2 separate regions of the Homo sapiens genome follow, and region 1 is linked to region 2. The links come from fine-mapping of genetic effects on gene expression. A gene starts in region 2. The other region holds a variant in brackets. All regions are shown on one strand. Distances are between the middles of the regions. Region 1 overlaps CC2D2B (coiled-coil and C2 domain containing 2B). Region 2 holds the start of CC2D2B (coiled-coil and C2 domain containing 2B).

What was found. PIP is the estimated chance that this variant, and not a neighbour inherited with it, causes the effect.
Region 1: its variant is the best candidate, but not a certain one, in a credible set for the expression of CC2D2B in whole blood (TOPMed, PIP 0.83).

The regions. Positions count from the first base shown.
Region 1 is chr10:95,972,801-95,975,717 of GRCh38, reverse strand. CC2D2B (coiled-coil and C2 domain containing 2B) reads right to left here. Exons shown (of 35, transcript NM_001349008.3): 17 at 1,562-1,709. The region is part of intron 2 of ENTPD1-AS1 (ENTPD1 antisense RNA 1); the gene reads left to right. Among named protein-coding and RNA genes, the nearest start is that of CC2D2B, 66 kb to the right of the region's middle. The variant G/A (reference allele first, on the strand shown) is at 1,453.
Region 2 is chr10:95,906,572-95,909,488 of GRCh38, reverse strand. CC2D2B (coiled-coil and C2 domain containing 2B) reads right to left here and starts at 1,514. Exons shown (of 35, transcript NM_001349008.3): 1 at 1,432-1,514. All of the region lies in intron 2 of ENTPD1-AS1 (ENTPD1 antisense RNA 1), which reads left to right. RefSeq lists enhancers at 1,198-1,257, 1,298-1,487.

The DNA.
Region 1 (2,917 bases), 66 kb before region 2:
TGATGACTGTCCCATTCCCTGAGTTGAGGAAGAGAGAGTTTCTCTTCTCCAGAACCACAGTTATTCACTTGGGTTCTGGTTTGATACCTTCCTGACTCTGAAGGACCTTATACTCTTTCCAATATATTGGGTCTTTTTCCCCACTGATTTCAATCTTTTGTAAGCTCATCACTTTTAATCACTTCTTTTAAGAAGATAAATATGGCCCCAATTTTTAAGAAATCTGTACCTTGATTCTTTTGTCTTCTGTTATTTTTTAGCATTTTTTTATTGTCAAACTCCTTGGTAAGTAAACTACCCCCACTATGTCAGTTTCGTCCATACCAACGATCTCCTTGTGCTACTGCCATTTAGCTTTTTTCTCTTTGTTTCTTATGTACCGAAGAAAAGCATTTATGAACTCTTACTATGACTCTGGCCATATGCTACTGGTTTTTATATATAATGTTCTCCCTGTTCTTTTTTAAACAGTCTCTAATTTCAGTTTTGATTTTCCATTTAATCCAGTTATGTATAACAATTTTCAAAACTATAATATTTTTAAAACATAATTTTTTAGAGAAGTTTTAGATTTGCAGCAAAATTGAACAAAAGGCACAGAGAGTTCCCATGTACCCCATCCCCATAAACATGCACAGCCTCCCCAGCTGTTAACATCCCTCGCTGGAGTGGTACCTTTTTTTACAATCCATGAACCTACATTGACACATCATTGTCACTCAAAGTCCATAGTTTACATTAGGGTTCACCCTTGGTCTTGTAAATTCTGTAGGTTTTGACAACTGTGTAATGACATGTATCCACCATTATAATGTTATGCAAAATAGTTTCACTACTCTAAAAATCCCGTGTGCTCCAACTATTCATTCTTATCTCCCCCTAGAACCTCTGGCAACCACTGATCTTTCTACTGTCTCCACAGTTTTGCCCTTTCTAGAATGCCATAAGTTATATGAAGCTTTTCATTTCCGTTTATTTTTAAAAATATGTGTTAAGATGTGGAGGGGAGAGGATATCTTTTTGTTATCATTGTTCATTATTTTAAATGATGAAATAAACTTTTTCCTTTATATTTACCATTTCCCTCAAACATAGCACATTATGGAAGCCAGCATTATCATCATTTTCATAGAATTTACTGTACTTATTTCTAGTAATCCCACAAATAATTAATCTGAAAATTAACCCCAACCCTTCTGGGAACTCCCAGAATGATGATAATGCATAAATGATTCTTTGCTAATCCAGAATGACTGGGAGATATACAGGCCCCAGAAATAAAGTCCCTGGGAGTCTTGACCTTTGCCTACAAGTGAGGGACTCTGGGAATGCCTCTCTCATCATCTGTGTGGCTATAATTCCAAGCACTGAAGGGACACATTCTCTTACATATAAATACACATACTGCCTTAGTAGAGTGATTTAAATAAAAGATAAATCAACATTCAAATA[G/A]ACTAAACTCTTCCTATTGCTGCTCAAGTTTTCTCTTTTACACATAATATGTTTTGTGTGATGCTTTGCTGAGACCTGGCATTATTTTTCAAAGATAAAAGTTTATTACCTGCAGTAAGAAGATCTTAATGATTGTGGCATAGGTATCAGAGGAAGACCATTTTCATCTAAGCTCCATGATAGAGAATAGCTAAGTTTTCCTGATGTCAAAAGACAGAGTTCTTCAGTTCCATTTCCCTCAAGAAGAAAAGGCACATCTGTTTATAAAAGGCATTAAAAACATATGAATTGTTTTAAGTGCAGTTGAAGCACATTGTGGGTTTTTTCCTGAGTTTTACTTGTGGAACTCTAGGAACACAAAGGAAGATCTGTGCTAACCCCACTCTTTTTTTTTTTTTTTTTTTGAGACAGAGTTTTGCTCTTGATGCCCAGGCTGGAGTAAAGTGGGGCAATCTCAGCTCCCTGCAACCTCCACCTCCTGGGTTCAAATGATTCTCCTGCCTCAGGCTCCCAAGTAGCTGGGATTACAGGTGTCAACCACCATGCCTGGCTAATTTTTTGTATTTTTTAGTAGAGATGGGGTTTTACCATGTTGGCCAGGCTGGTCTCGAACTCCTGACCTGAGGTGATCCACCTGCCTGGGCCTCCCAAAGTGCTAGGATTACAGGTGTGAGCCACCACGCCCGGCCCTAACTCCACTCTTATCTTAGTGCTCTCCCTCATCTCCTCTCTAAGATCCTTCAAGGACTACAAAAGAGAAGGTAAAGATTGAGATGAATATGTAGAGATGAATATCATGATTTTCTTCCTTTCATGCCTGGAGGCTTCTTAACCATTCTCTGTGGGAGTGGCTTCCAGCAAGAAAGGACCATTGGCAGCAGAAAAAGAGGCCAGCAAGCTGTTCTTTCTCCTCTTTCCTTACATTCCCAAGTCTTCTGCATCTAATCTCCAAAGAGTTTAACAATACTTCTTAAAACTTTTGCTGAGTGCACAGTGTTCCCTAAATTTTTTGAGTCCTGAGTCTTTTGTCCCGGGTCTCCATAAGCTTATTTTTCTGCTTCATCTGGACTTGAAGCAAACTCCGTTCTTCCCTCGTTCTCTGCCCATTTCCCCCCGCCCCCTCCTCCTTGCTCACTTGTTCATACTTCCTTACTTTTCACCAAATAGGCCCAAGTAGTTTCCAAACCCCTAGGAAGGTGAAAGAAAGGAATAATGGGGAGAAGGAGAGGAATGACAGTGATCTCAGAGACGCACTAACTTACATTTAACCGTATAAGAGGAGTAAAATCAATTGAAAAACAACTAACAGAAACATCCCTTCTTTCTTCTCTCCTTTTCTCTGTCCCTCCCTCTTTCCTTCCCTCCCTCATTTTCTTCTTCCCTTCCCTATACAGTTCAAAGACAAACCCATATGTCTGCGAGCACCTGTAGGTTCACTAAAGGAGAGGTCGAGGCAGAGCAGCCA
Region 2 (2,917 bases):
ATGACACCTTTCTGAACTCTCTTATAGCAATGTTTCCTAAATGATGCCTTCCAGACTTAATTTGAATTAGGATGCTATGTCCAGAATTAAGGTCTCATTCACAGTTATGATGTAATTAAGGCAACAATAGCATTTTGTAAAAATAATCTATTAAATATATAGCACCAGCTACCCTTTATTGTTATTAGGATATGGAAGAAGTGGAATTTAACTTAACAATTCTTTACTTAGTTAAGAGGAATATAGCAGTATTTCACAGTGTTCTACAAAAAACATTATGACTTCCATGTATTGCATTAACTGGCAAGTTTAAAAATTAACTTAACTGTTATCTTGTTTTCCAAAATCAAAACTTAGGAACAAACGGCGTGACAAAAGATTTTCTGATCTGTGAATTTATTTAAGTCTTCGAAAGGCAACAAAACTAAATCACCCACTGCTCTGAGGACCAGTTCCCAAGTCATCATGTCCTGCTCCTGTAGATCAAGAAAGATTTGGGCCCACTTCTCTATCTTGGGACTTCTGGTACATGAAAACTAATGTGGAAACAGGTTACAAAAACTATCATATTATATTTTGAAAATTTACATCTAACACACACCATGCAACGTAGTTTTGCTACTCAAAGGTGAATTACAAGATTTATAAAAATGTATTAATTCTTAGAGCAACCACTGGCCAGGAGGCCCAGAAGCTCTAAACAAGTACTGTAATGTTTTTTATTCAAACCTGAAGATGTATCTCTGTGTCTATACTTATAGCCTCAATTAGAGAGAAAGTCAACCAGGAGGCCCTTTCTGAAAGTGAAGCCAAAAAACTCTCACATCACTTCCCCATCTAAGCCGCAGTGACCACTCTCCAACATTGACCACTCTCCAACATAACCCCTCAACTATAGCTGGATGGAGTTCTTGTTTATTCTCCCTGGCATCTCCAACCTTTAATTTTTACAACTTCCCCGCAAATGGATAGCATTCCGTGTTTCTAAGGCTGATTCAAACTCCACGTCTTTCAGGAAGTTTTTTCTAACTCTGTCTCTTGATCTCCAACAGCATTTGTAGTTCATAATGCGAATTTTTGTTCATTACATTCTACCTTCCAAGTTCATCTTCCTGCTTATCCTAATGTGAAGATCAGGACTAAGGCAAGGTGTTCAGCACACACAGTAGGCACTGAATTAATAATATGCCGACCCGTATTTCTTGCAAATCAAACACTGCTCTCGAGTGATTTTCAATTCTACTCATTCCCAAATTGGCTAACAAACCGGTCGGCCAGGCCCCCGAACTACAAGTCCCAGCGGCCTGCGCGGCCCCGGCTCCGGTTATCCCAGCCCAGCTAGTTCTGCCCATGCAGCAGAGCTCCACAAAAGTGCGGGAATGTCTGACAGGGAAGAATCAGAGAAACCTTCACCAGCAGCCCGACATTCACCTGGACGGACAGTGCACTTTTCTTACGTCTGGGCAGGGAAGGCAGGGCGCACCATCTACCGCAGGCTAGGATGATCACCAACCGCCCCACCGCACCCTGCGCCAGCCCTACGGCGCCCGCGGGCTGCAAGTAGCGGCGACCCAGGAGCATGCGCGCTGCCGCCCCTGGCCTGCCAGGACCCAGAGGGAGCGGAGCACGCGCCTTTGGGAATCTTCGGTGCGCCAAGTCTGTTCGCCGCCGGGGTCTATCACCCCCGCCCCTCGCCTCTGCCCGTGAGCGTGTGAGTTGTAGCGTACCCTGGGGTCTGTTCTGGAGGAGGCCTGAGAGCGGGGTTGCCTGGGGCGTGGGTCTCTCATCCCTCTCGTCCTGGTGAAGAAGAAGAGTATACCCAGCGGGTGAGTACCGGCCGCGAGCTCCCGGCTGAGCGGGCGTCCCCGGGGAGGACGCTGCGGGGCGCCGTTGTGGCAAGAGCGGTCGCCCGCGCAGGGCGTGGAGGCGCGAGGCCGGGGGACGCCAGCCGGCAAGTTGCACGGGTTGCAGCGCCCCGGGACCTACTTTCTCTTTGCCGTCGTCCCTGCCTTGCTAGGAAAAGAGGGGAGCTTTGACTTCAGGTGATTTCCTTTGTGGCTTACAAAAGAGCCCCCTAAATATGCAAGCGGTTCCTTTTATTTCCAGAGCTTGCTGTTAGCGTACTAATGTACTATGTTTAAAGTCTTAAATAGGGCATGCCAGACACGCTCACCCATGTGTCGTCATTCATCGCTTAATAAACAGAGTACGGCTCTCATTGTTTTTCTTTTTCCCATTGCCTCGCTCCGAGTTAAAATAACGAGATAAACTAAACGTGATGCGGTTGGGAACTTGTTCAGGGAAACCGGCTGGGGCGAACTTCGGAAACTTGCTAGTGTAGAGAGCCGCACGGTGGTGGTTTGTATGCTTTCACTCATTCAGGCTTTCCACAGTGTTTAACTGCGTTCTGTGTCAGGCATTATGCCCCAACAGTCGTCTTGTGTAAGACTTCCATGCATTTTTAAGCTTTGCTTTTATTTTCTAAATGTACATGTTAATAGAGAATAAACATTATTGACCTCTTTATTCTGATATTAATTGCCTAAGTTTCGTAGGATTGTCTTTATTTTTTAATAGTATGGTGACCAAAAGTAATACTAGTGTTTAACCTTAGTAAGCAAAATAGAGTCCCAGTGTCTCTGACAGCTTGGCACAGTTTCATTTGAGACCGTAAATCCCACCCTGTCTATAGTCTCTGTCATACTTGGTAACAACCCAGATAATTTATCCCTTCTCGCAGCCTCATTCCCACACCTTCTCCATCTGCTGATCGTCTCACTATCTGCCTTCTTCTGGAAACTGTAAACTCTTTTTCTAGACTCCTCATATGTAAACCCCTCTATATCTTTTTTTAAATTTATATATATATATATTTTATCATACTTTAAGTTCCAGGGTACATGCGCACAACGTGCAG